Linked DNA regions of Homo sapiens. The protein of the gene in region 2 interacts with the protein of the main gene of each other region in a pairwise test. Each region holds a gene or a part of one and is shown on either strand. Other genes may lie near its edges. The genes, in order: TMEM174, PLLP, CLEC12B and FAM174A.

Region 1 (7,198 bases), on a different chromosome or scaffold from region 2:
TCTCTCAGCTCAGACAACATGGACAACCAAATGTCCTGCTTGAAGTTCTGCTCGCTAGGATTTCCATTCTACCCTATTTCTAGCATCTTTCAGGGACACTCCTGATGGGTGTCATAATGCTTCAGCAGTCCACTGTTGTGCAGAATAACGTATACACAAGACCTAAGATTTTTTCTCCTCAGTCATCTAGCTGGGAAGAGCTCCCTACTAGGCCATAGGTTTGGATTGTAGGAGAAGATGCCACACAGTAAGAGTAAGTGTAAGGCTCTGAACCGCCTGTTTATGTAGTTACTTGTAATTCTAGACCTGCTCATGTCCAAGTTCTTAAATACCATTTTTACTTGATAATGAATCACTGCTGTGCATGCTCAAACTTACAGTTGTGTGGGTCAGATATGCTCAGGTCATGATTGGCAGCTCAGGGGTCATTCAGTGTCCTAGGGTGATGCAGGGCCCAGTAGCCAGGGCCCAGTAAAGAATCATGAGCTGTGTCTCAAAAGAAGAATAGCTGCCTGCAGAAGCAGCATGGATTTTCTCTAAAACCCTGGAGGCCTGCGCTGTGGTTTTATCTATGATTACTCTGTACAGCATCACTACTTACCATAGATACTTTAAGTATCATTGTCTATTAGGGTTCTCCAGAGAAACTGAACCAATCGCATGTAGATATAGATACTGTTCCATGGTAAGCAGGTTTATGCAAACCTATCCTCAAAGGCCATGGAAGCTAAGAGGCTGAGGAAAGAGGCTGACAAATCCAGTTTCTCAGAAAGGAACATATAATAGGGACTTAAGAACAGAGGCCATGCTCCTGGAAGCCATGAGACAAGATGGTGGATCCTATACCATTACTCACCAGACCCAGAGCTTACATACCTCAGGGAAAGGGTATGTATGCTTCAGAAGGGATGTGTAGAACAATTGCTTAAGGTCAGGATTTATGGTAAGTACTATAACATTAAAGTTGTTTTGATCTAAGGGCAGGGCTTACAGTAAGTACATGCTCTCATGCAAGGAACAGTAGATAAAACAGACTTTTTTTTTTACTATACTTTAAGTGTTAGGGTACATGTGCACAACGTGCAGGTTAGTTACATATGTATACATGTGCCATGTTGGTGTGCTGCACCCAGTAACTCGTCATTTAACATTAGGTATATCTCCAAATGCTATCCCTCCCCCCTCCCCCCACCCCAAAACAGGCCCTGGTGTGTGATGTTCCCCTTCCAAAACAGGCATTTTAAAGGCATTCCTGGAACGAGTTAGACAGCAGTGAACACGGTGGGTTAGCATCTAAGAGGGAGTGGCTGTAGCCTCCACAGATGTATAGCTATATAGAAAGATATCTATTTAAATTTTGTTGACTTTTGGTGATGTCAGCCCTGTAAATATAGGATACAAGTTTCTTTTAGGACCACCACAGAAACTCTCTGGTTCTCTGACTGTGACTTGAGCTGAATTTAAAGACCTGAGCTTGTTACTTTTCCTTTTATAAGTATTGCAGGGCATTCTGAAGTGGCCATCTCCATCCCACAGAACTTGCAGTTCATCATTATTGTCATAGTGATTAAGTGTAGCAGCCAGTTGGTCCCCAAGGCATTTGCTCCAATAGGCAATTTTTCACAACCTACTACAGGTGCTATTTTTATTAGTTTTGATGCCACTTCATGCCATGATCTACTAATATCCCATGTTTCATTGATGAGGACTCAGCATTGTATTTGAGGCCAAGAATATGACCAAATCAATTCCAGAATCCCATCTTCACAGGTATGTTTCCTAACCCCACTGTGAATACGACATATCAGTCAGAATCACTTAGGGAAACAGAAACTATACCAGTTATTTTAATAGAGAGAATTTGGTATAGGAAATTAGTTTAACAGATACTGGAGGATTGAAAAGGCAAAAAATAAACACTAAGAACACTTAGACTTAGTGAAAGCAGGCTGGGGGAACAAAAGGAAGAGGTTGGGCTTATATTAGAAATCAGAAGCTTGGATAAGGGCCCTTGTGGAGCTGGGATGCAGCTCTCTGAGTAGAAAACGTCCTTCAGCTAATGCTGGCATCTCAGGAGCTTGGACAAAGAACAGTGGCTGGTGTTGGTTTCCCTGAAGGGGCACAGTGAGGCTGATTGGAGGGCAGGAGGAGGGTTCTGGAAACTGGAACTGTTACTGCCAGGAAGAAGAACTGTTGTTGGAGTGACACTGACAGTAACAGCAAGCAAAATAGAAACTGCTAAGTGCCTTCTCCTTTCTCCCACCTTGAAGTCTCCCTGTAGCACCCCCTATTGGCAAAGCCTAACTGGAGCAGCCTGGGAAAGGAAAAGTGTGCTTTGAGAGTCTGAGACAAAGAGAAGTTTAGAAAGGTGGGTTTGGAGCTGAGTCACCATAGCTTAATAATCAGCATAGTTTTCTTGACTGTAACCTGGTTGTTAAAAGAATGAAATTATGTCACCTATATTAAATGTATAGAATTACACCTGGTACATAGTAAGTATTCAATAAATGTTTCCCCTTCACTCATCAATTGAGATGATCGTGTGTTGTTTTTTCCCCTTCATTCTGTGAATATACTGCATCACATAGATTGATTTTTGTACGTTGAACCAGCCTTGCCTTCCACTTGGTCATGGCATATAGTCCTTTGAATATGCTATTGAATTCAGTTGGTTAGCTTTAAAAAAAAATTGCTATTTACCATCTAGACAGAGGTGGGGCTTTTGGAAGAAGCAGCTGAGTCAAACGGACCTTGAAAATGTAATTGGAGAACTTTCTGATCTTTCTGCTCTGAAAGCAGTTCCAGTTTGCATTCATGAGCTGTCTAAAGGAGGGTGATCTGTTTCCTCTACTCTCTCAGGCTTCCCAGTTATTCTTAGTGGATATAGCTAAAGGCAAATGGAAAACATAAATTGAGTGATTTAGAAGACAGTTTTGAGATCCTAGCTTTTTTCTAAATGTCAGGGATTGTTTTGACTGTTAACTTAGGAGTTAAGAACCTGAAAATAATGGCAGGCTAACTTACCAGAAATTTATAGTTAAAGAGAAAATCTGGCTTTCCTGGATCTCTGATCTAGCTCAGTGGGAAAAAGGGCAGCCTGTTCCTATAGCAACTCCACTCCAGCCTTGCTGCTCCAAGGCACATCCAGGAAGATACCTCAGGGGTCACCTGCTTGCTTTTCCATCTGTTTGGCAGTGAAGTAGGAGATTACAAGCCTTGTCCTGTAGCAGGGAGAGGCATTTTCATGGGGAAAAATGTCCTTTGGTCTCCTAGAAGCATTTAAGGTTAACCTGGGGTTGGGTTTCCTAAGATTTCTTGATGATGAATCACCTGAGGTCCTTCCCTTGGATATTTGGTTCTGTTGGTCTGAAATGGGAGCTCACATTTTGTCCTTTAAAAAAGTGGCCCATGTGATTTCTTTGTCAAGGGAAGTTTAGGAAGCCCTGCCTTAGGGCAAGACGGCAGCCCTCTCAATTCTGCAAAAGGAGCTAATATAATATTTAATTACTGCAGAGAGCATCGGCTTGAATAAAATCTGTCTAGGAAGGAAAGAAGGCTACAGTTATTAATCAGTGGAGGAAGAAACTCATGGGGCTGTTTGGAAGTTTTGCAGTCATGAATGACAGATAATGTTATTGAAAATTAAACTGTCTTCTCTACATCAACTTGGGTTTGGTTGTAAAACATAGTAGGTTCCAAAACACAGCTGGTTGTTTCACCTTGAAGACCAGGAACTGTGTGGCCACCATGGAGGGAGGGTCCGAAGCATGTGTCCTAGTGAGCCAGGTCATATCTGATGCTTATTCAACCACTGGCAGTGATGCAGTGCATAAAAAGGTTTCCTATGACGTTGTTCCTCTCCCAAAGCTGGAATTACTCCCCAAACGCAGAAAGCAAAAGGCATGTGGGGCTGGCCAGAAAAGAACAGGATCTCAGGGCTTTGTGAGAACTGTTATTAAAGTTTAAGTATCATCACAGCTAGGGGTTCTTGAAGTAGATAGGAATACACACGCAGTCAAGAAATAGGTGTCTGTCTATTCCTAATGAACTGAACCACTAGGTAAATCAGGTTAGACTCCTGTGCATGTGTGGATATATCAAGGGCCCCATTCACTGCTGGAGACCCTTGAGGGAGCTCTGCCATTTCTACAAAGTTGGGTAGGACAAAAACAGGGTCTTATGGCAGCGTCTTAAATTGCTATAGAAGAGTACCTCCTGGGGCCAAGGCAGGAGGAGCACTTGAGTCCAGGAGTTTTGAGACCAGCCTGGTCAACATAATGAGACCCTATCTCTACAAAAAATTTTAAAAATTGGCTGAGCATTGTGATGTGTGCCTGTAGTCCTGGCTACTGGAGAGGATGAGGTGGGAGGATCGCTTGACCCAGGAGGTTGAGGCTGCAGTGAGCTATCATTGTGCCACTGCATTCCAGCTGGGTGACAGAGTGAGACCCACACCCTAAAAAAACAAAACAAAACAAAAAAAAGAAAAGAAAAGAAAAAGAAAGAGAAAGATGGGCTCAATAAGTTAATTTTTGAATGTGTGAATGAATGAATGTGAATTAGAGAGACAGCTTGTCATTGACTTGCAAAACAGAGACCTCCACTTGTTGACAATACATGAGAAAACTTCAGGCTTCATTTCTCAGACCTTTATTCTTCTAAACAAGGTCCAGCCCTCTGTGTGTTACACCCTGTTAAGCACAAGCCCTAAGTTCTTCTATAACTAATTTGGACCTGTGATTCCTTGGTTCTCACAATCCTCTCCACTCTAAGAAGCAGGGTGAGCCCACAAGGAGCAATGGAGCAGGGCAGCGGCCGCTTGGAGGACTTCCCTGTCAATGTGTTCTCCGTCACTCCTTACACACCCAGCACCGCTGACATCCAGGTGTCCGATGATGACAAGGCGGGGGCCACCTTGCTCTTCTCAGGCATCTTTCTGGGACTGGTGGGGATCACATTCACTGTCATGGGCTGGATCAAATACCAAGGTGTCTCCCACTTTGAATGGACCCAGCTCCTTGGGCCCGTCCTGCTGTCAGTTGGGGTGACATTCATCCTGATTGCTGTGTGCAAGTTCAAAATGCTCTCCTGCCAGTTGTGCAAAGAAAGTGAGGAAAGGGTCCCGGACTCGGAACAGACACCAGGAGGACCATCATTTGTTTTCACTGGCATCAACCAACCCATCACCTTCCATGGGGCCACTGTGGTGCAGTACATCCCTCCTCCTTATGGTTCTCCAGAGCCTATGGGGATAAATACCAGCTACCTGCAGTCTGTGGTGAGCCCCTGCGGCCTCATAACCTCTGGAGGGGCAGCAGCCGCCATGTCAAGTCCTCCTCAATACTACACCATCTACCCTCAAGATAACTCTGCATTTGTGGTTGATGAGGGCTGCCTTTCTTTCACGGACGGTGGAAATCACAGGTATGGCGTGTCTACTGGGGGAATGCACTCCTTCTAGCCATCTCCGTCATGATCTGTGGCTGTTTGGTCCATGAATAAGGTGTTGGGAGACTGTGAATCTCTTCTTAGCCTGTTGCCCACGATGGCAGCCTTGGTTCTGTGAATGGTGCTTTGGACCATAATGTACCTGTGTTTTCTGCTCACATTTCAGGCCCAATCCTGATGTTGACCAGCTAGAAGAGACACAGCTGGAAGAGGAGGCCTGTGCCTGCTTCTCTCCTCCCCCTTATGAAGAAATATACTCTCTCCCTCGCTAGAGGCTATTCTGATATAATAACACAATGCTCAGCTCAGGGAGCAAGTGTTTCCGTCATTGTTACCTGACAACCGTGGTGTTCTATGTTGTAACCTTCAGAAGTTACAGCAGCGCCCAGGCAGCCTGACAGAGATCATTCAAGGGGGGAAAGGGGAAGTGGGAGGTGCAATTTCTCAGATTGGTAAAAATTAGGCTGGGCTGGGGAAATTCTCCTCCGGAACAGTTTCAAATTCCCTCGGGTAAGAAATCTCCTGTATAAGGTTCAGGAGCAGGAATTTCACTTTTTCATCCACCACCCTCCCCCTTCTCTGTAGGAAGGCATTGGTGGCTCAATTTTAACCCCAGCAGCCAATGGAAAAATCACGACTTCTGAGACTTTGGGAGTTTCCACAGAGGTGAGAGTCGGGTGGGAAGGAAGCAGGGAAGAGAAAGCAGGCCCAGCTGGAGATTTCCTGGTGGCTGTCCTTGGCCCCAAAGCAGACTCACTAATCCCAAACAACTCAGCTGCCATCTGGCCTCTCTGAGGACTCTGGGTACCTTAAAGACTATAAAACAAAACAAAACAAAAACATCAAACCAATGAAATAAAATAAATCATGTCTCCTGCTAGAATAGTATTGGATACCTGACTAAATTACACAAAATAGACCATAATAGGATAGCGCTGTGAATACATCCTTCCCGATCACTGAGTCACAGTGACCCTTGGCTGCTGCTGTTCTCTTCTGCAAGGTTGAAGCTTGACGTGTGATGAACATGGGTGGGCTCTTGGTCCACCCCAGGCTGGGGCCTGCGCCAAGCATGAACTAGCTGGGACCAGTGGCTGACAGAACACAGGACTTCCCTAAGTACCCGTAGGTCTGTGGAGCAAGACAGAGCAGAGTTGCCATGTCAACACATGGGGAATGATATGATAGAAACAATCTTTATGACTAAAAGAAACTCATCTTCTTCATTAAAAAAACTTTGGTGTCCTTAATCTCTCTGAATTTGGCTGTGTAATAAACAACTGGAACTGACTCACAGACTTTAGAAGAGACAGTTTAAAACCATTAGGTTTTAAAAGAAAATATTTGCTTTGGGCTTCAAAGGCAATGCCACTCAAGGTAAGGGTGGTACATCCTAAAGGAAGACACAGGATTAAGCAATTCTTAAAAAAATTTTGACATAGCGTTTGTATATGGAGCAACTTTTACTAATTTTGATCAGAAGTATCTAGGTTTCCAAGGATATGAGTGAAGTAAGCTTGGTATATTATTGTTGTCATTTATGTTATATCTTGGGGACAAAACCTTTTCACATACACTGTCATGTTTGATGATAGGTGATAAGTGAAAATGATTTCATTTAAAGAAACTAGCTTTATGTTCAGCAGATCCCTGAGACACTGGTCCCTAGCTGAGGGCCATTGGTTTTGGAGAAGAAGTTTGGTGACAAGGACCAGGCTGAGCATCACCAGTGGCATGCTGACCAGCAGAT
Region 2 (7,023 bases):
GAAAGCCTCAGACCCCAGCTGCAGGGGTTTTCCGGGTCAGAGGAAAAAAAAAACCAGCAGCTTTCTGTGTGTCTGGCCGGGGTACTTCCCATGTCCGCTCTCAGCCCTGTGTCCTGGGGAGACTGTCCTGGGGCAAACCTGGGGAGCCCAGCCTCTCCCAGGCCTCAGGGCCTCACCTGCAGGCAGCCAGGTGCCCGAGCTTGTCCTGCACACTTGAGGCCCTGGCCTGGGCAACTTCTGACAGCTTGCCACAGCCTCCAGCCACAGGGCTGCCTACCTGGGCCAAGCTACAATCTCACAAACTCACACAACACAGGCACAAATTCTGACCACCCCCAGAGGGAAATTTTTTTTTTGAGGTGGAGTCTTGCTCTGTCACCCAGGCTGGAGTATAATGGTGTGATCTCGGCTCACTGCAATCTCCGCCTCCTGGGTTCAAGCAATTCTCCTGTCTCAGCCTCCCAAGTAGCTGGGACTAGAGGCGCGCGCCACCACACCTGGCTAATTGTTGTATTTTGCTAATTGTTGTATTTTTTGTAGAGACAGGGTTTCACCATATTGGTCAGGCTGGTCTCAAACTCCTGACCTCAGGTGATCCACTCACCTCAGCCTCCCAAAGTGCTGGGATTACAGGCGTGAGCCACCACACCCGGCCGGGAAAAATATTTTTAAGATTCCAAATGGCCTCTTACAAATCCACTCAACAGCCCCTCACTTCTACTCCCCTCCTGGGACAAAGTCAAGCCTGTGTCCTTCCTGGCTCATGGTTCCCCAAAAAACCGTGCACCTAGGCATGGTGGCTCACTCCTGTACTCCCAGAATTTTGGGAGGCCAAAGTGAGAGAACTGCTTGAGCCCAGGAGTTCAAGACCAGCCTGGGAAATAAAGTGAGACTCCTCTTCTACAAAAAATAAAAATAAAAATTAGCAGGGCATGGTGGCACGTGCCTGTAGTCCTAGCTACTGGGGAGGCTGAGATGGGAGGATCACATGAGCCCAGGGGTTCAAGGCTGCAGTGAGCCATTATTGAGCCACTGCACTCCAGCCTGCACATAGTGAGACACTGTCTTGAAGGAAAAATAGAAAAACTGGACCTCTGAACCATCAATCCTCACCTCCACCCCTGGCTCTGCAGATCAGCTTAGGTCAGTGAGGATGTCAGGCCACCCCCCCACACCCTGCCACTTCTTCTAGGGAAAGTCACAGTGGTCCTGTCATAGCCACTTCCAGTACCCCCACCCAGACTCACCACCAGTGGCCAGGGAACCATGTACAACTTCATGTGCAGCTGAAACAGGTAGAGGTTGAAGAGGACGATTGTCACCAGCCAGAGGAAGACAGCGACGAACATCACCCAGCCATAGGCCGGATACAGGTGGTACGGGGTGTCCGCAATCAGCGCCCACACCAGCAGCCCCAGCACCTAGGAGGGTCAGACAAGGCAGGATTGGCCAGAGATGCGGTTTCATTTCTTATCTAGCTAAGAAATACTGGCCAGGCACAGTGGCTCATGCCTGTAATGTCAGCACTTTGGGAGCCCAAGGTGTAATAATCGCTGGAGGCCAGGAGTTCAAGACCAGCCTGGGCAACAGAGCAAGTCCCCATCTCTACAGAAAAATTAAGGCCGGGCGCAGTGGCTCACGTCTGTAATCCCAGCACTTTGGGAGGCTGAGGTAGGCAGATCACCTGAGGTCAGGAGTTCGAGACCAGCCTGGCCAACATGGTGAAACCCTGTCTCCACTAAAAATACAAAAATTAGCCAGGCATGGTGGCGTGTGCCTGTAATCCCAGCTACTTGGGAGGCTGAGGCAGGAGAATTGCTTGAATCTGGGAGGCAGAGGTTGCAGTGAGCTGAGATCACGCCACTGCACTCCAGCCTGGGAGACAAAAGTGAAAATCCGTCTCAAAAAGCAAAAATAATAATAATAATAATAATAGTTAGCCAGGTATGGTGGTGCGCACCTGTGGTCCCAGCTACTCATGAGGCTGAAGCAGGAGGATCACATGGGCCCAGGAGTTAAAAGCTGCAGTGAGCTATGATCATGCCACTGCATGCCAACCTCAGAGACAGAGTGAAATTGTCTCAAAAAATAGAAAAAAATTTAAAAAGGAATGCTGACTTGGCTCGTGTGATACACCACTGTACCGGGGCCCTGCCCTGCACTCTCACTCCTCTTGCAGGTCTCAGCTGAGATGTCAGGTGCTCCAGGACACCCCCACGCCTCCAGCCGGCATCCCAGAGCCCTCATCAGTGCTCACAGGGCCCCCCAGGCACCCACCATCCAGGGCCATAATCGTTCCCTTCCCCAGACTGCGAGCTCCACGAGGGCACAGCCGTGGCTGTCTCACAGCTACGTCCCCACACCCAGCACAGGCCCTAGGCCCTGCCAGGGGCTCAGTAAAAGCTGCTGAAAGGAAGATCAAGTCACCACAGTCCCAGAGGCGGGAAGACAACAGCCCTGTGTCCTCCCTCCCAGCTGGGCCCAGCAGAGAACGTCACAAGGGCCTCTGGGTGACCTCCTGCCCAACACCCCACGTCTCCGGCTCTCCCAGATGCCCTTCTATACAGGTGTTGCCATCTCACAGGTGAAACTGGGCCTCCAGGAAGCCAAGGGGCCTACCTGTCAGGCTGTTCCCACACGGCAGGATGGGCCTGACCATCCCAGCAGAGCATGGGTAGTGGCTAACAGCATGAACTCTGGAGCCCAGCTGTCTGGCTTCGATCCCGGCTCTCCTTACCGGCTGTGTGGCCGTGGGCAAGTGTATAACCACCCTTGCTTATCATATAATGACCATTCCTATCTTGTAGAGCTACTGTGAGGACCCACAAGTTCATGCACATAAATGATTGCAGCAGAAGTGTTTTTTTATTATTCCACAAGCCCGAACTGGACTGCACAGGCCCCAGCCCTCACAGCCACAGAGAATTCTCTGCGGCAGGTTTGTCGACTCACTATGCAGACTGTCTCAGGGTGCAGGCCAGCAAAGGGCCAGCTGAGGCAGGGCCCAGGGAGCTCGTGGAGGCCCCCAGAGGCACCTCGGATGTGGCCATCCTGGGCCTCCCCAGCCCCTCCTACCCCCACCCACCCCTTGCTGGTGGAGATGCTCTGGAGAGCGCCTTCTCCACGAGGGCACTCTCTGGAATCCCTGGCCACGGAGAGGACACGAGGGTCTAGCTTTGGAGAAAGGCTCCATTGCCAATCAAGACACACAGAGGTGTCCTCTTTTTCCCCTGGTCAGCGCCCAGGTACATGGCACCAAGGCTGCGTAGTGACCTTGCCACCAGCCCAAGGACAAGTCAGTGGGATCAGAGAAGCGGCTCCGGAGCAGGACCTGCCTCTGGCTGCTAGGGTTTGGAGACAGAAAGTCCTGGCTGCTCCCAGCAGCTGAGGGGCTGCCGCCAGCCCCTAGAGCACCTGAGGGCCTGGGCCTAGAGCACAGACAGAGCTGGGGTGCCTGCCAGGCACCCCATCCAAAAGCAACCTCGTCGAGGACCAGAAGGGAAGCTCCTGTGTGGATCCCTACAGAAGCCAGGGACAAGACTCGGGGGCCTGTAGCTGAGCTGGCCCAGGGAGCCCTCAGCCCTCACAACCCTCCTTCCTCGGCCTACTCCCCATCCCCCAGGGATCTGGCTTGGGAAGGGTATGGCCCAGTGGGGAAGTGGCAGGTGGGGCCTCGAGCTTGGAAGTCAAAAGCTGTGTGGCTGTGTGATGCTGACCGAGTACCTTCCCTGCTCTCCGAGGAAGATTCTGGGTTTTGTTCACTGCTGTATCTTCAGTGCCCAACAGTGCCCGACACATAATATACGCTAAATACACAATGTGCTTAGGAACTAACAATCCTATTTCTTCAACCATGACAGAGACCAGAACCCTGCCCTGCACAGGCACCGTGTATTAAAAGAGGAAGCAGTGGGGCTGGGCGTGGTGGCTTATGCCTGTAATCCTAGCATTTGGGGAGGCCAAGGTGGGAGGATTGCCTGAGCCCAGGCGTTCAAGACCCCATCCTGGGCAATATACAGGGAGCCCATCTCTGCCAAATACTTTAAAAATTAGCCGAGTGTGGTGATGGTGCACCTGTGGTCCCAGCTACTTGGGAGGCTGAGTGGGGAGGATCGCTTGAACCTGGGAGGTTGAGGCTACAGTGAGCCATGACTGTGCCACTGTACTCCAGCCTGAGCAACAGCAAGACCCTGTCTCAAAATAAACGAAAATAAATAAAATTAAAATTAAGTAAAGTTAAAATTAAATTAACAAAATAAATTAATAAGAAGCAGGTGTCCATCTGTGAACTGCCCCTGGCCTTGCCTCCCCCCAACCCAAGTAAGGGGCTCAGCCCAAAGTGGGAGGCCCAGGGAAGGTGTCCCGCTCTCCAGGGCTCAGCACCTGCTCCTCCCCACACTGGGGTGAAGCTCCAGGGATCCACCCCCCAACACACAGCACCCTGCCAGCCTCTGCTGCCCGTCAGCACTCTCACCGCCGCAAGCAGGCCAGGTGAGGGTAGGCAGGTGAGGAAGCCAGGGCGGAGCCACAGGGCCTTGCCCGCTGTCACACACCAAGCTGGGGGCAGAGCCCTTACGAGTGTGGACCCAGGGCAGGATGTCTCAGAACAACACCCTGCCAGAAACAGACACACCTGGAGAGGCCACGAACCCCCAGAGCTGGGGGGAGGCCAGTGTTCTGAAGGAGAACAAACACTTCGGGCAGCACGCCTCCGTCCCTTCTCCAGGTGAGAACTGGGTGCGTCCAAGATAAACAATTATTTTTTCATTTAAAGCCAATTCCTCATGGGCCTCCGCTGCCACTGTGTTGCCAGCTTCCAACTAACTAAAGGAAAGTCAGAAAATGCAATGAACCAAAAATCAAGAAAAGACCAATTCAGGTTTCCACTATCATATGCCTATCAATCACCTGTCCCATGACTCACAGCCTAGGTCACAATAACCACTCAATGCCTTCTCGCTCTGTGCCAGACACATCTCATTGATTCCTCCATCACCAGACCCTCCTCAAATGTTCTATCTGTTATTCCCATCTTCCAAAGGGAATCTCAGGAGGCAATGTGCCTGAGGTCACTGTGGGTAAAGGACAGGGCAGGAGGCCGGGTGCAGTGGCTCACACCTGTAATCCCAGCACTTTGGGAGGCTGAGGCAGGTGGATCACTTGAGCTCAGGAGTTCGAAACCAGCCTGGACAATATGGAAAACCCCATCTCTACCAAAAATATAACATTTAGCTGGGCATAGTAGCATGTGCCTGTGGTCGCAGATACTTGGGAAGCTGAGGTGGAGGATCAATGGAGCCTGGGAAGTCAAGGCTGCAGTGAGTCATGATGGCGCCACTGCACTCCAGCCTAGGTGACAGAGACCCTGTCTCAAAAAATAAATAAAAATTTTAAAAGGATAGGGAAGGACAGGAACCCAGATCCGTGCTTCCTTGGAACCTGCGCTACTATGAGTTATTTAGTGAAGTGTAAAAAATGAGGACACTTCAGCTGGCTCTAGGAGCCAGTCTGGGCTGGGCACCCAGGCTCCCCCCACTGCCCGCCGCCATCCCTGCCCCGCCCTGTGCTGTGCTCCAGCCCCACCCCTGGTTTCCAGATCAGCGAACACAGCGTCCAGATGAAGCCGGTGGATAAGGACTGGGAATTTCTGGCGTTCTTTCTGGCTGTGCTGCCTGGCTCTGTGCCTGCGGAGCTGCCTCGGTTTCTGCCCTAGAACAAGGAAGGTTCGTTCCTGCATTTGAACCAGACAGACTGGTTTCTCCTGGTTCCTGAGCCCCCAGCCCAGTCCCCCAAGAGAGACCCTGCTCGGAACAGGGCACCCAACACAGGCCTCGCTGTGGGCATCTCTCTGGGTTAATATATTTAACAAATGTCTATGGAGAAGGGGCCAAGAAAGATCTCACTGGCAAGGTGATGATAAGCAAAGACCCAGGGAGGTGAGGGAGGGGCAGGGAGGGTGCCACGTGGGTATCTGAGAACAGAACTCTATGCCTTCACCCCTGGGCCCTGCAGGTCTCTCTTGCTTACATGTTCGTCTGTCCCCGTGTTTCTCTGGAGGTGTCTACATGAATATCTAACTGTCTCTCTCCTACACACACAGGCAAACCACATCCTCCCCTCCTTCCCAGCTCTCTGAGGTCCCTGCCATGCCTCCCCAGACAGGTCCTGCAGATAAACAAAGGGAACTGTCTGGAAATCTCAAGGGCACAGGGCCTTTTTTTTTTTTTTTTTTTTTGCTTTTCTGAAAACCTGAATAATTTGGATTAGGAACTTTTTTTTACATATGAAGACTACAGTGTCAAAAACGACCTTTGCATCTTCAAAGAATTTCCAAACAATTGGGTAACGAAGAGATGTTTTTGTTAAAACCACCTGTGGCATCAGAGAGAAGATTCGTCACAAATGCCCAACCAAGAGGCACTCCTTGCTGCAGTGAAACCCTGTTATTACAGTTTCCCCAGAAGCTGCCAACACTGACAGCCAGACAGGCCAGGTTCCTGCAGGGTGCATGCCCTTCACTGACTCTGAGGGAAGTTTTTCCTCATCTCTTATTGTGGTTTGCAATGTGTTCCCCAAAATATGTTCAAGTTCTAACCCCTAGTACCTGGGAATGTGGCCTTATTTGAAAACAGGCTCTGGCCAGGCGCAGTGGCTCATACCTGTATTCCCAGCACTTTGGGAGCCTGAGGTGCATGATCAGTTAAGGACAGGAGTTTAAGACCAGCTTGGCCAATATGGAGAAACCCATCTCCAGTAAAAATACAAAAATTAGCCGGGCATGGTGGTGGGTGTCTGTAGTCCCAGCTACTCAGGAAGCTGAGGCAGAAGAATCACTTTGAACTCAGGAGGCAGAGGTTGCAGTGAACTGAGATTGCACCACTGCACTCCAGCCTGGGGGACAGAGTGGGACTCTGTCTCAGAAACAAAACAAAACAAAACAAAACAAGGCCTGGCATGGTGGATCATACCTGTAATCCCAGCACTTTGGGAGGCTGAGGCAGGTGGATCACCTAAGGTCAGGAG
Region 3 (7,350 bases), on a different chromosome or scaffold from region 2:
ATCCATTCAGATACGTGGTCCTGTAGATCAAGCGCTGGTATGGAGATAACAATTTTTGGACATTATCAATGTATGGCTGTTATCTCAAGGCACGAATCTATAAGAAATTAATTCCCATTCTGGCCATTCTCTGGGTACTATTCAATTTAGTTCATTCCAGGATAAGTTTTTTGTTTTTTTTTTAAGAAGACCAAGAATTGAACTCTAGGACACAACAACATCTTAAATTAATTTAAAGAGGAATCAGTTAATCTGAGGGAGGATTGGGTTGTGAGTGAAGCAAAAGGAAAACCAAGAGAATGGTGTCCTAGGGAACAAAGCATTTTGGAGAAGAAAGTTTGTCACGAAAAGTGAATAATCAGTTATTTAAAATTCTGTTTATACGATGTGTAAGATGAATCCTGAGAACTAGCCATTGGATGTGTTTATACTGAGGTAATGTTGACTTTAGCAGGAGTGTTTTTTAGAAATAGTGAAAGAAGGGCCAGGCGTGGTGGCTCACGCCTGTAATCTCAGCACTTTGGGAGGCCGAGGGGGACAGATCACGAGGTCAGGAGATCGAGACCATCCTGGCTAACACGGTGAAACCCCGTCTCTACTAAAAATACAAAAAATTAGCCGGGCGGGGTGGCAGGCGCCTGTAGTCCCAGTTACTCTGGAGGCTGAGGCAGGGGAATGGCATGAACCTGGGAGGCGGAGCTTGCAGTGAGCCGAGATCGCGCCACTGCACTCCAGCCTGGGCAACAGAGCTAGACTCTGTCTCAATAAAAAAAAAGAAAGAATAAAAATAAAAAAAGAAAAAAAAGAAATAGTGAAGGAAAAAGCCTAATTAGAATAGGTTTGGGAAGATCATAGAGAAATTTTTGAACCCATTTGTTGTTAAGAAAATTAGAGAAATGGAGTGATCATGTGTATGGTGTTACGGTGAACAAAAGATGGCTTCTGCTTGTTTTAATATAGGAGATATTATATCATCTTTGGAAGTGAACATAAGTGAACAAGTAGAGATGAAAAAAATGGAAAAATTGATAGAAAGAGAAAAAGAAGGAAAATTACAAGCTTGAAATCTTTAAGGAGATAGGTGGATGGATTTTAATATACAGATGGAGATTGATCTTAGATGAGTAGTACAATTCAACCACTGTTGAAAAGAATACTACCTCATATACTGATGTAGCTGTTTTGGTATATTTGACTAGTGAAACAGAGAAAACTTCTTTCTGAATTTCTTTTTTTTCTTAAGATAATGTTAATGGAAAAGCCAGGTTATCCGTTTAGTTTGTAGAAAGAGAAGACAGAAAGAAATTTGAGAGTCTGAGAAAGAAAAAGAGATTGGGAATAATCTTTTAGGAGATTTGCAGAACAGATTGATTAGTAAGAGTGCTGAGAAGTTACATTTCAAAAACGTAAGATAAAACCAGTTAATATGATCACATTCAGCTACTTGAATGTATGCACAGAGTAGGTAGGGTTGGATTTAAACAAGCTGCATTTTCTAGATGCTTATGATGAATGAAGAGGTAAGCAAGGAAGTTGTAGCTGTGGGTAAGAAAACGATTTTTATAATTGGCCCTGGTAAGTGGTGCATGCTGGGTATAATAGGAAATGAGACATGAGGGATTGACAACAATGAGAAGTTGGCATGGTCAGTGAAGTTGCTATCTCAGTGGGCACTGAAATGCTGTAGAGTGTAGAATACCCAGAGAGAGTGGGCTGGAAACATAGGAGGTGGAGGTCAGAGAGTGAAATATCTGAAACAGATCATGGAAGAATTTCTCATATTGGAAATGAAATTGTCTGCACTCTAGTGCAGTGCTGTTCAATAGCCACGTTGCTAATAATGGAAATGTTATTTACCTGCACTGTCCAATTGCATAGCCAATGCCACCTGTGGCTGTTAAGTACCTGAAGTATGACTAGTGTGACCTAGGAAATAAATTTTAAATTTAATTTAATTTTAATTAATTTAAGTTTAAATAGCAATTATATGCCTAGTGATTACTACGGTGAATAGCCTAGCTCTAAACTAGGATCATCTAGTGGGTGACTGATTTTTGTGTGTGAGCAACTGATTTCTGAGTGTGGGTAAGGTTATTGGAGGCAAATTCAAGAACTGAGAGCCCATAGTATTGGAATTATCACCTACCTGAATGTCGAAATCACATGATAATCATGATAGGAGTAGAGATCAATAAGATTTAAGATAGTTGAAAAAATAATGAAGAAATAAGGAGAATTTGGTAAATGACTGCAACAAAGTGAGTTTTTAAATAGTGTAACTGATAAAATAAGCTACAGAAATGCTGTAAGTTTTTAAGGGAGAAAAGTATATAAAGAAATGTCTAAATTAATATGATCATACACTAATAATGATAGATGATATAGCTTTTTGGATCATAATAATAGAAAGTATGTGAGAAGTGTTATCAATCTTCTCTTAGAAATAATTAGGAATCAGGTGACATTCTTCATCATTGTTCAAGCTAAGCATCATTTCATGGATAGTGAGAAGTTAATACTTTGTTAGGAAGCTTTAAGGTATGTGAAAGAATTAAGGAAATGAGGATGAAAACCCAGTTTTTGCAAAATCTGGTGAAAGTCATGAGACGTGAGGCCAGCCAGACTTCCTGAATCGAGTGGGGACTCAGGGAACTTTCCTGTCTTACAAGAGGATTGTAAAACGCACCAATCAGTGCCACGTAAAACGCACCGATCAGCGCTCTGTAAAACGCACCAATCAGCAGGATTCTAAAAGTAGCCAATTGCGGTGAGGATTGAAAAAAGGTCAGTCTGATACGACAGAAACGGAACATGGAGGGGACAGTAAGGAAATAAAAGCTAGCCACCCCAGCCAGCAGCAGCAACCCGCTTGGGACCCCTTCCATGCTGTGGAAGGTTTGTCATCCTGCTCTTCACAATAAACCTTGCTACCACTCAGTCTTTGGGTCCGTGCCATCTTTAAGAGGTGTAACCCTCACCGCAAAGGTCCGCGGCTTCATTTTTGAAGTCAGCGAGACCAGGAACCCACCGGCAGGAACCAACTCCGGACACGGACCAGAACAGAGATAGAAAACCATTCTTAATTTCTTATTTTTGTAATCATCTATTTAAACTGGTCCTCATGTCAATGGTCTCTGCCTTTTCTGAATTCAACTAGAATAGTAAACATAAGCATAGATTTATTATTTGTTTCAATATTTTTGATAGTGGAGTTTTATTGATATATGACTTAGAGCCTCCAAACATTTTTTTGATTATTTCATCAATTTGAAAAAAAAAAAAACAAAAAACATGAACAAGTAACATATGTATATTTAGGTGTTTAGAGATCATGCACAGCGTTCCTAAAGAGAAAGTTTTTACATTGCCTTTCTGCATCTGCTTCACAGCTGTGGGGTGAGTGCACCTCACGCTGGACACCTTTGACTAAGATAATCTCCACACAGATATGAACCTTGGAAGTTTTAGATCACTCCCCACTCATCTGAAACCACAAAACTCATACCCAATCCTTCCCCTAAGTACAGTTATCTAATATTCTGCCTCTCCCCAAAGGAAAGCTTTAGAGGAGATTCCTTAATTTCGTCCCTCATATATAGCGCTCCCCCCCCATATTTTCCTGGGTTCTGTATTAACTACATATTGCTGCTGTAACAAATTACCACAGATGTATTAACTTCCGGTAGTTATCTTTTTAAAATCTTGTCCTGTGTATTCCTTGCTGTCTGCAGGATTATCCCATGGTTGTTGTTCTGTTAGGAACTTTCCCAACCATGCCAGAAGAGGGCACTCCCATTCATACTCACGTTAAGTAGCTAAGTAGCTATCAGTTTCTTCTCCATGCTCCATTACCAACACCATGTCTCTCTCTCTCTGTCTCTCTCTCTCTGTCTCTCTCTGTCTCTCTCTCACACACACACACACACACACACACACACACACACACGCTTGAATTTTCTATAATAGCAGCCAGGTGTGTGGCACAGCTCTTTCTGTCTTAATGTGTGTCTCTCTGCTTAATATCTAATGTGGCTGAGAATAAACTAGAACCAATGTCTCCAGGCAGATTAGCTAGCCTTAGATAGATGTAAAGAAGACAACCTGACTCTTTTCTGAAACATTCAGAGCATCCTCTACCCCGAGGATCATGGGAATTCCCTCATGTTCCTCCTGCTCTGCCTCAAGCACCCCTTCTTTGCTGCACAGCAAGAAACAGTTCTGACAGAGCAGACAGTTTGAGATCTGTAACATTCTAATGAGAATATCTCTAAGGAGAATATTTGGCTTTTCTCACTTTCTCTGTAGAGAAACAAATTGTCATTCTTCTCTTACAGAGGGGCAGTAGAGTGTGTCTGGGTCAGCTGAGTGACTACATCAAAGCTCCCAGCCTTGAAAAACACATGCTGTTCCCAGGCCTCAAGATATTGAAACATTAATTAGATAATTTAAAGTAGCGTTTTCTTCTACAATGTCTGAAGAAGTGACCTACGCGACACTCACATTTCAGGATTCTGCTGGAGCAAGGAATAACCGAGATGGAAATAACCTAAGAAAAAGAGGTAGGAGTTCAGAGAAGACCAGCTGTGTCCTTGGGGGAGTGGACAGGTGTTAAATGCTTTGAGGTGCCAGCTTTAATACTGGCGTTAAAGACATGTGCTGTGAAATCTCCAAAATGGGGACAAATAGTTGTGGAATGTATTAGAAAAGTGAGTGTTCCCAAGGTTGAAGTGAAAATATGTGGCTTTCAGAACCTCTTTAAAGTTGTGTGATATCACACAGTCAGAGAAATTCTGACTGCACATGCCAGAAATTGAGCTTGGGGAATTAGAGATTTCTTCTTATGAATATAATCCTTGATATTTATACCTTGTTAGAGATGCCAGGAGGATATTCTTTCAGAAACCAGATTGGAGGCTTCTAAAATAGAGAAGGTAGAGGACGTTTTTCTTTTAGATGATGTAAGTTACTTAAGAGAAAACTGGAAGATGAGTGAGTGGATTAGAAATAGATCAGAGCTAATTTTTCTTTTGTCAGTATTTTTTCAAATTTTAGGGTAGTTGAAATCCGAGCATAATTTGTAATGTTGAACCAGTAATAATAGTATCTGGGTAGTATTTTATGTACATTATATACAGATATAATTGTAATGAAAATCCACAATAATATTCGAATATTAGTATTTTCTCCATTACATAGATGAAAAAACTGAGGGTGAGAGAAATTAGATAATTTAAGCAAGCTCACACAACTGCTATGTGGGGAAGCCCAGTCTCAGTGCTGGTCTTCAGCTCATTCTCTTATGCCTAATTGGAAAAATAGCAGTCTCCATGGTCAAGACTCTGATTTAATATATAAGACCACATCTCTTATTTTCAGATATGTTAACTATCCAGGTTCTCCTGAATCATGTCAGTCATCTGAACTACTTTCTCCTGCCCTCTAGATTTATCTTTACATTTTGTGTGGTGCATGACATTTGAGGGAAGGATATTTACAAAAAGCCGATGGGAATAGACTTTGCATATGTCTAATAAATGTGGTTACACATTTTTGCCTTGTTTTGTTTTACTTTTTAATTCTAATTCTAACCTGTGAGGAAAAAGGAGGTGTGGATATGGTGCATATCACAGTGTACCTAGAGTCTGTCATGCTGTATCTAAAACATTGCGCTAGATGTTATTTGGACCTAAATCAAGGGATATGAAGCTAAGGAAAACATGACAACCATTGATATTTTAAACAACAACAATGACTAGGATGCTAACGGCTTTCTGGTCTATTCTGCTGTTTGTAGGTTAGACTGCACATTCTTTCCTTCTTTCATTCAGTATTCATTCATTATTTATTAGGTGATAAATAGCATGAATAATAGATAAGTTATTGTTAACAGGTAAAAGATACTTTAAAAAGTCGAATCCACTTTTACAAGGCAGATAGAACATGTGCCTTATAGAGACTTTTGAGCTCAAAAGCTTGAGGTGTCTCCTACTGTCAGCATCATCCAGAAAAGCAGTTTTTAGATCTCTCATTTATGAATTCAATAAACTTGAGGAAGAAAAGTGGGCAATGATGTAAAACAAAAACCTTGAAATTAGGAGAAGCTTCCTTTTTATTTTATTATTATTATACTTTAAGTTTTAGGGTACATGTGCACAATGTGCAGGTTAGTTACATATGTATACATGTGCCATGCTGGTGTGCTGCACCCATTAACTCGTCATTTAGCATTAGGTATATCTCCTAAAGGTATGCCTCCCCCCTCCCCCAACGAAGCTTCCTCTTAAAGTGAAGGAGAGCGGTGGAGAAATGGAGGGGAAACAAGGATGGCACCCTCATTGCACTTCATATTAGGTATTTTCTAAATGAGGGCATTAAAGAAGCAAGAAAGAAACGTTAGTATCGGGAAGCTCCCTAAGTGGGAGAAATAAACAAACCAAAGTGAAACAAGCACAAAGCAGTTCTGTGTGCTGATTGCTCTTTTGGCTTTCTCCAGGGCATCCAGCTCCATCTCCCATTTGGCGTCATGCTGCTCTGGGTCTGGTAACTCTTTGCCTGATGTTGCTGATTGGGCTGGTGACATTGGGGATGATGTGTAAGTATATCAGCATCAAACCCAACAAAGGCAACTAGAAAACATATTGTAAACCATGTACTTTCAGCTTGGATTGTAGATGGGTCCTAGCATCCTGAATCGTCTGATACTTTTCTGCTGTCTCATATCTCTCCTATTCGTCATATCTTCCCAAAAAACCGGCAAAAGACATTATCAGGATTTGGTTCTAAATTCATTGTTTTATCTTGATAAGCTAAACTGGACTTAGACAAAGACTCTTTGTTTCCAGTTATTCATTAGAATAAAGAGCCTCTTTTCTGCCTAGACACACATTCACTTATCATTCCAATGCTGAGAAATAAAGTCAAGAAATATGTATTGAAGGAAGTGCTTGCTATTTTTATTTACCTGAAAGACTTAACACTAGACTAGGTTCAGTCTGCTTACATGAAACTTCTCTAGTGGAGAGAAATCTTCCAAGTAGCAGCAGCAGCCTGATTTCTATGAATGAGAAAGACATATAAACAAAGAGGAAGAGTGGCCTGATACACCTTACCAAGTAAGAGAGTTGAACCATCTCCACATGACAATGGAAGCTCCACTCTCAAGCACCACAGCCACAAAGGAACATTCTATTGATTCTGACCCATCCTCGGGAAGTTGGGGATGAACATGGTAGGGAGTTCTTGAGTAATGAGAAAAACATCCTGAGAATACAAACTTTATAGGGTTGTTAAGTATATGGTATACAGAGTAGTGAATTGGCATGGTATTCGCTTACAGGGAACTCACAGTCA
Region 4 (8,006 bases), on a different chromosome or scaffold from region 2:
GTGTATAGAAATGCTAACAATTTTTGCATTGATTTTGTATCCTGAGACTTTTCTGAAGTTGCTTATCAGTGTAAGAAGCTTTGGCGCTGAGACTATAGAGCTTTCTAGATACAGAATCATGTGATCTTCAAACAAAGGTAATTTGACTTCCTCTCTTCCTATTTGAATACCCTTTATTTCTTTCTCCTGCCTAATTGCCCTGGCCAGAACTTCCAATACTCTGTTAAATAGGAGTGGTGACAGAAGGCATCCTTGTCTTGTGCTGGCTTTCGAGGGGAATGCTTCCAGCTTTTATCCATTCGGTATGATATTGGCTGTGGGTTTGTTATAAATGGCTATTATTATTTCAAGGCATCTTCCTTCAATATCTAGTTTATTGAGCATTTTTAACATAACGGGATGTTGAATTTTATTAAAGGCCTTTCTACATCTATTGAGATAATCATGTGGTTTTTGCTTTTAGTTCTATTTATGTGATTAATTACATTTATTGATTTGCATATGTTGAACCAACCTTGCATTCCAGAGGTGAAGCCAACTGGATCGTGGTGGATAAGCTTTTTGCTGTGCAGTATTGGTCTATTCTGAGATTCAAGTTCTTCCTGGTTCAGTCTTGGGAGGGTGTATGTGTCTAGAAATTTATCCATTTCTATGAGATTTTCTAGTTTATGTGCATAGACGTGTTTATAGTATTCTCTGATGGTTGTATTTCTGTGGGGTCAGTAGTAATACCCCCTTATCATTTCTGGTTGTGTTTTTTTGATACTTCTCTCTTTTCTTCTTTATTAGTCTAGTCAGCAGTCTATTTTATTACTTTCTTCAGAAAACTAGTTCCTGGATTCATTGATTTGTTTAAGAGCATTTTGTGTCTCTATCTCCTTCAGTTCAGCTCTAATCTTGGTCATTTCTTGTCTTCTGCTAGCTTTAGGATTTGTTTGCTCCTGGCTCCTAGTACTTTTAGTTGAGATGTTAGGTTGTTAACTTGAGATCTTTCTAGCTTTCTGATGTGTTCATTTAGTGCTATGAAGTTCCCTCTTAACACTGCTTTAGCTGAGTCCCAGAGATTCTGGTATGTTGTCTCTTTGTTCTCTTTAGTTTCAAATAACTTCTTGATTGTAGCTTTAATTTCACTATTTCCCCAAGAGTCATTCAGGAGCAGTTTGTTTAATTTCCATGTAGTTGTGTGGTTTTGAGCGAATTTCTTAATCTTGAGTTCTAACTTGAATGCACTGTGGTCTGATAGACTGTTATGATTTAAGTTCCTTTGCATTTGCTGAGGAGTGTTTTACTTCTGATTATTTGATCAATTTTAGAGTAAGTGTCATGTGGCAATGAGAAGAATGTTATGCTCTGTTGTTTTGGGATGGAGAACTCTGTAGATATCTATCAGGTCCACTTGATTCAGAGCTGAGTTCAGGTCCTTAATATCTTTGTTAATTTTACGTCTTGATGATCTGTCTAATATTGTCAATGGGGTGTTAAATTCTCCCACTACTATTGTGTGGGATTCTAAGTCTCTATGTAGGTCTCTAAGAACTTGCTTTGTGAATCTAGCTCCTCCTGTATTGGGTGCTTATATATTTAGCATAGTTAGCTCTTCCTGTTAAACTCTTCACCATCATGTAATGCCCACCTTTGTCTTTTTTGATATACTCTTTTTTAGCACTGTGCTAAATTCTGAGTATTGAGTAGTGAATAAATGAGATTGACCCTTGCTTCATAGAACTTAGGTTCAAGTGGTAAAAATAATCACACTAATTTTGGAATCTTAAGTGTGTGTTATAAATGAAACATACAAGATCTATACTACAAATTTTGTAAACTGCTGTTTTAGGTAGAGTGGACAGGATAGTTTGTCTCTTAGCTGCTTTCAGGGAGCAGGGTAAGGCAGTTGCTTCTGGCTGGCAGAACTGCAAGGATTAGGCATCTTAATGTTGAGTTTCAGTGTAAAGAAGCCCATTTGTGGTACACCCTAGTGTCAGCTTCCAAATGGCATTTATCAGTAATAAAATGCCCTTTTGATTTCCCATCTTCCTTACTCAGAACTTCATTCCACATTATAAATGGAATAGAGTTAGTATTTAATGCCTCTCCCAAAAAATAGAATAGAGTTAGTATTTAATGCCTCCTCCCAAAAAAGTCCAACATTCAACTTGTCAAAAAAAAAAAAAGGAATGACAAAAAAGAAAATGTGCATTATCTTTCCTTCCTTCCAAAATCTGATTTTGTCATGTTCTTCATCTTGATTAATGGCATTATCATTCTCCCAGATGTGCAGGCATAAAACCTTGGTATCATTTGTTACCCCAAATTCCCATCTGCAGCAGTCCTTGGCAATAACTGGGACATGCAAAGAGCTAAATGATTCTGAAATCTTAGAATCAAACTATTGTTTCCAAATGATTAGGAAAGCTATGTTCTAATGTTTCTCAAAATGCAGCTCTCAATTACCCAAAACAGAATAAGAAAGGGAATTTGTTAAAATTGGAGATTCTAGATCACTATTTTAGAAATTCTGGACAGAATTTTTGGAAGTGGAGACATGGACTATATATGCATTTTTAACAAGCTCTCAGAGTGATTTTCATGTACACTGAAATTTAAGAATCTCTTTCCTTTCCCTTACTACCTGCATCCAGATATTGTCATATCCTGTCCATTTCCCTAACTTTTTTCCCATTAATCCAATCCTACAGGCCTCTATAGCCCTAGGACTATATACTAACCTGCTTGGTGCCCAGCACTTTCTACCTTCACTTAAAATGGCTATATTACTGCCAGGATAAACTTTTTAAGTACAGATCTCTCCTGATATAGCAACCAACTAACTAAACAACAACAACAAAAACAAAATCAGATTTTTCAGAGATACTCAATTCTCAACAAAAGTGATCTTAAGCAGGCAACATACCTGGAAGTTACTGTGCTCTTTTTAGAATACCATATTGTTTGTAAAACATCATTATATAATGACATCTTGAAATCTGTCATGGGAATGAACAAAAATTTTCCTAGGAGAAGATACTGTGTTTTGTTTGTGCAATAGAAAGTTACAATTTTGAGCACAAATATCTATGTGAAATACAATCTTTCAAACTAAGTAAAATTAGTTGTTTATGAATTTTTCTCTTAATTTTAATATACTTGTTCATTTACTTGTTATCAATTGGCTTGCAAACAAGTTGTACCAAGCACAGGATATAAAAAAAAAATACATAAATAAGGGGAAAAAATCTCAGAATGAGAAATTTGTATCAGGTTACTGCCACATTATTATATTCTCCTAATTAATACCATGATTTGATTCTAGCTTCTTAATCAACTATTGCTAGAATAATGTGGCATAATCAATAACCATAGAAATATCAGTGGCATACAGCAAATAAGCATTTATTTTTCACTTCTTTGGTCAAGCTGGGGTTGACTAACTTAAGCTAACCTTGGCTGCATTTGGTGCCAGGCTATAGGTTTAGTCATAGTTTACGCCAGATATCCCACAGTCTACTAGGATCAGAGGACTAGCTGGGTCATATTCTTTTCAAGGTTAGGGCCAGAACTTTCTGTGCAGAGAGGGCAGGCAAGTGAAAGGGGGAAAGGAATAATGAGAGAGGTAGGTGTGTGTATGCATGTGTGTGTGTTTCTGGCTCTCTCTCTGTATATATCTACCTGTATCTGTCTCTCTTTTAGCAATGAAAACAATAACTTACTCAAAAGACCCACGTATACCCTTGACAGGCATCTCATTGGTGAGAGGTACATCATGCGGCCACTTCTAGTTATCTGCACAAATTGAAGTTCCATATTACTGAAGTCAAACAGGCAAGGAAGACATTATTGAAGACTACTGCTGTTGGGAAAGGGGATAAAACTCTTCTAATCTCAACTCCTCTAAAAGAAAAAAAGGAGTGGAGAGTTATTAAGAGCTATTTTGGGAAGATCACCGGCCACCTGAGTTTGCTGATTGACTTTACCCAAAGGAAAAGTAAATTTTCTCCTCCATGACAGGAGGTGGTTTTACAACTTGAAGCGAGAAGCCTACAACAGTTAGGTTCCTTTCCTCTCACACAAAATAAGAGATGGCCCACTACCTTCCTTGCTGATTATATTTCAAAGGCATGATGGCTTTCCATACCCTTGAGATAGTTTTCAATTATATAACTGGCCAGAAGCTTTAAAAAATATTTACATCTGAAAAGGGAAGAGAAATAACTTACAATGGTAAAGTTTTCTAAAGTAATTTTTTTTAATATACTTTAAGTTCTAGGGTATATGTGCACAACGTGCAGGTTTGTTACATATGTATACATGTGCCATGTTGCTGTGCTGCACCCATTAACTCGTCATTTACATTAGGTATATCCCCTAATGCTATCCCTCCCCCCTACCCCACGACAGGCCCCGGTGTGTGATGTTCCCCATCCCGTGTCCAAGTGTTCTCATTGTTCAATTCCCACCTATGAGTGAGAACATGCAGTGTTTGGTTTTCTGTCCTTCTAATAGTTTGCTCAGAATGATGGTTTCCAGCTTCATCCATGTGCCTACAAAGGACATGAACTCATTACAAGCAAATGCTCTTTAGAAAGGGAGGTCAGGGACCCATAGGCAGGAAAAAAAGCCTGCTTAAAGCTTGTAATGAAGCTAAGGAAAACTAAGCCCTTCTGGCTTACAGATTAAATGTGTTATTGCAGTTTGACACCAATGAATTCAGATTATGAGTTTCCAATCTCTCAGGGTTCCTGCATGAGAGAGTTGCTGTACATTTTACACAATCTCTTTTTGTCTACTTACTTTCTTAATACGCATCCTTGACCGCTCCTCACTAACAGTGAAAAGAACAATGCTTCCAAAACGGTCACGTCCTCGCTTTTTACACAAGTGCGCGTGCGCACTGGGCGCTAGGCCTCTGACGTCACCAAGTGCATCCGCCCCTACAAGTTAGCAACCGAAGGCGTCCTTAGCAGCAGTGGCCGCTGAGATGTACGAACTTCCGGTTCTCCGGGCAGCTGCCACTGCTGTAGCTTCTGCCACCTGCCACGACCGGGCCTCTCCCTGGCGTTTGGTCACCTCTGCTTCATTCTCCACCGCGCCTATGGTCCCTCTTGGAGCCAGCGTGGCGGGCCTGGCGGCTCCCGGGTGGTGAGAGAGCGGTCCGGGAACGATGAAGGCCTCGCAGTGCTGCTGCTGTCTCAGCCACCTCTTGGCTTCCGTCCTCCTCCTGCTGTTGCTGCCTGAACTAAGCGGGCCCCTGGCAGTCCTGCTGCAGGCAGCCGAGGCCGCGCCAGGTCTTGGGCCTCCTGACCCTAGACCACGGACATTACCGCCGCTGCCACCGGGCCCTACCCCTGCCCAGCAGCCGGGCCGTGGTCTGGCTGAAGCTGCGGGGCCGCGGGGCTCCGAGGGAGGCAATGGCAGCAACCCTGTGGCCGGGCTTGAGACGGACGATCACGGAGGGAAGGCCGGGGAAGGCTCGGTGGGTGGCGGCCTTGCTGTGAGCCCCAACCCTGGCGACAAGCCCATGACCCAGCGGGCCCTGACCGTGTTGATGGTGGTGAGCGGCGCGGTGCTGGTGTACTTCGTGGTCAGGACGGTCAGGTGAGGCAAAGCCTCGGTGGGGCACCCCCGTGGGCCTGAGATACGCAGGCCGGTGATCTCCAGCAAGGCTGACTTCTGTGACCCTTTCCCCCTTCCCCAGCATCAGGGACTCCTGCTTAAGAATATGATATTGACTTTCTTAAAGGCCTGTTACCTTTGGAGCAATTTAAACCTATAACTAATTGCTGCCTTTTGTTTATAAATGAGTGCCCTACCTCCAAATCTCTTCATCTGACCTACAACCCACGTCAGCCTCAAAGGGCACCCTTTCTCTGAAGTGAGGATAATCTTTATTCCCTAGAATTTTGACTACTCTGTCTTGTAATACTTCTACCTTTCTAGTCTAAATTTTTGTATACCTAACTGGTCAAAATTTTGCCAATCAGAATGCAAACTCTTTAAAGACAGGATATCTATTTAGTAGGTTTGTGAGTCTTACAAATTATTTGTACAATGCTGCCACTTAATAGGAAATCAATATATATTTGAGTGGATTAATAGTAATATAGAGGTGCCTTATGGATATTTTATTTTTATAAAATTCAGGAGAAGAAAAGTTCTTCCTTACTATCAGTGTTTCCTAGTATTGCCCTTTAATCTGCCACCTAAGTGGCAGAGAATCACCTTCCTGAAGAGTTGACATACAGAGCCAAGACCTCACCATTAGGAGAAGCCAGCAAAGAGATAAGGTGAGGGAAAGCTGTCTAGCAGTTTATTTCATTATAAAATAAGTGTAGAGGGTAGGTTTGCAGCTTATGTTTGTTTATTGTTTTCAAAATTCACGTTTTTCCCATAAATACCCTCTGTATTGTAATTTAACATATTTCTTTAAACTGATTATTTAAAGCAAAAGTTTCCTTTTAAACAAGTCGTTATTATCATGAATGGAAAACCAACATCACTTGGCTAGTTAAAAAATAGTGTAAGCCAGTGGTTCTTGACATGTGGGCCAGGGAACCACACAGGTGGGAGTTTCACTTAGACCTCTTCAGGGCATCTACAGTATTAAAACTATTTTCAAAATAATACATTCTGTTACAGGCTTATAGGGTACAAGTAGTTCATTGATATTGTTTCAGATTCCACATTGCAACTAATCTTTAAGAAACTGCTTGTCAAGTTTTGGTGTAGTAGTATCATAAAGGAATAACCACTCATATATAAAAAGGCTATTAAAATGTTTCTTTCCATTCCAAGTTTATATCTGTGCGAAGATGGAATTACTTTGTATGCTTCAACCAAACAACACATTGCAAAGGATTTAATGCAGAAGTAAATATAAAAATCTATCCATTTCCTATTTTTTGTTTCTATTTTTTATCTACTCCTATCACCTTAAGCCAGATATTAAAGGGAATTGGAAATAAGAATCTAAATGTCATTCTTTTTACGTTTTTTTCTTTTTTGAAAATATAGTTGTTTTTCATAAAAGTTATGTTAACTTGTAATGTGTTTACTATTATTTTAAATCAGTTGATAAGTATAGGTTTTCTCAAGTTTAATTAATATGGTAAAGTTGATATGTGTAATTCACATAAATATAAGTTATTTTGGGTTCCTGAACAATTTTAAGAATGTAAAGAAATCCAAAACAGCAGGCGTAAGCAATATTTGAGAACCACAGCTGTAAGAAATATTATTTGAGCTAGATATTGTTGGTTCACAAAGGCTAGCAAATCTGCACTCACACTCTAAGTGTTAAAAGCATATTACCACCAAACTGAGACTTTCTTCTTAATATAAAGAAAGATTAAAAGAATATTGAAACAAATTATTTTCCTCACTATATAACTGTTATTTACTGCTGTCTGTACATAGTTCCTATAAAAATGCATGGCCCCTTGAATGTTGTATCTCTTATACATAAAAATGATAAGTATAATGATAATTTGGGGGGAATATTCCTTCCTTGTTTTTTTCCTTTTGCTTCCACCTTTTTAATTATTTTAAATACACATATTTATTACCATTGATTTTCTGTCATTAATGTTGTAAAACTTGGACAGATACAGTCCTTCCAATATGATCCTATTGGATGACTTGGTAACATGATGTGTGTTAACAGCCAAATTCTGAACTATGGCTAATAAAAAGTGCATTCTTTAACCAGCATCTAACATATTCATGCAGTCCAAGTCCTACATTTAGTTGGCTGCCTGGCATCCAAAGCTTGAATGATGCTAACAATGTCTGGGCAGTGTTCCGAACTCATACTTTTTGCTTCCAGATTATGGTTTTCTTCATTATCTTGGTGAATGCTCATTTTGGCTCCCATTTTCAAACTATGTGTGACAGTGCACTGAAATTAGTTATTTGTGCCAAGGGAGAAGAATGGGCCAAAATCATTATTTTCTTAACTGATTTGAGGTGATGCAGAAAATATTTTACTTGTAAAATTTTATTACATTGAACTA

Evidence for each region.
Region 1: the proteins of PLLP (region 2) and TMEM174 interact in binary tests that used the Homo sapiens proteins (3 or more experiments, as listed by UniProt).
Region 3: the proteins of PLLP (region 2) and CLEC12B interact in binary tests that used the Homo sapiens proteins (3 or more experiments, as listed by UniProt).
Region 4: the proteins of PLLP (region 2) and FAM174A interact in binary tests that used the Homo sapiens proteins (3 or more experiments, as listed by UniProt).

The regions. Positions count from the first base shown.
Region 1 is NC_000005.10:73,168,446-73,175,643, forward strand, and holds TMEM174 (transmembrane protein 174), read left to right. Parts: upstream 1-4,747; 5' UTR 4,748-4,798; coding exon 4,799-5,424; intron 5,425-5,614; coding exon 5,615-5,720; 3' UTR 5,721-6,698; downstream 6,699-7,198. UniProt on the Homo sapiens protein: Regulator of plasma phosphate homeostasis. Decreases serum inorganic phosphate (Pi) uptake by regulating the sodium-phosphate cotransporter SLC34A1 trafficking by PTH and FGF23 in the kidney.
Region 2 is NC_000016.10:57,260,650-57,267,672, forward strand, and holds part of PLLP (plasmolipin), read right to left. Parts: intron 1,422-7,023; coding exon 1,248-1,421; intron 1-1,247. UniProt on the Homo sapiens protein: Main component of the myelin sheath that plays an important role in myelin membrane biogenesis and myelination. Plays an essential function in apical endocytosis. Regulates epithelial development through the regulation of apical endocytosis.
Region 3 is NC_000012.12:10,006,292-10,013,641, forward strand, and holds the start of CLEC12B (C-type lectin domain family 12 member B), read left to right. Parts: upstream 1-4,335; 5' UTR 4,336-4,468; coding exon 4,469-4,559; intron 4,560-6,493; coding exon 6,494-6,592; intron 6,593-7,350. UniProt on the Homo sapiens protein: Inhibitory receptor postulated to negatively regulate immune and non-immune functions. Upon phosphorylation, recruits SH2 domain-containing PTPN6 and PTPN11 phosphatases to its ITIM motif and antagonizes activation signals.
Region 4 is NC_000005.10:100,530,373-100,538,378, forward strand, and holds the start of FAM174A (membrane protein FAM174A precursor), read left to right. Parts: upstream 1-5,001; 5' UTR 5,002-5,158; coding exon 5,159-5,592; intron 5,593-8,006.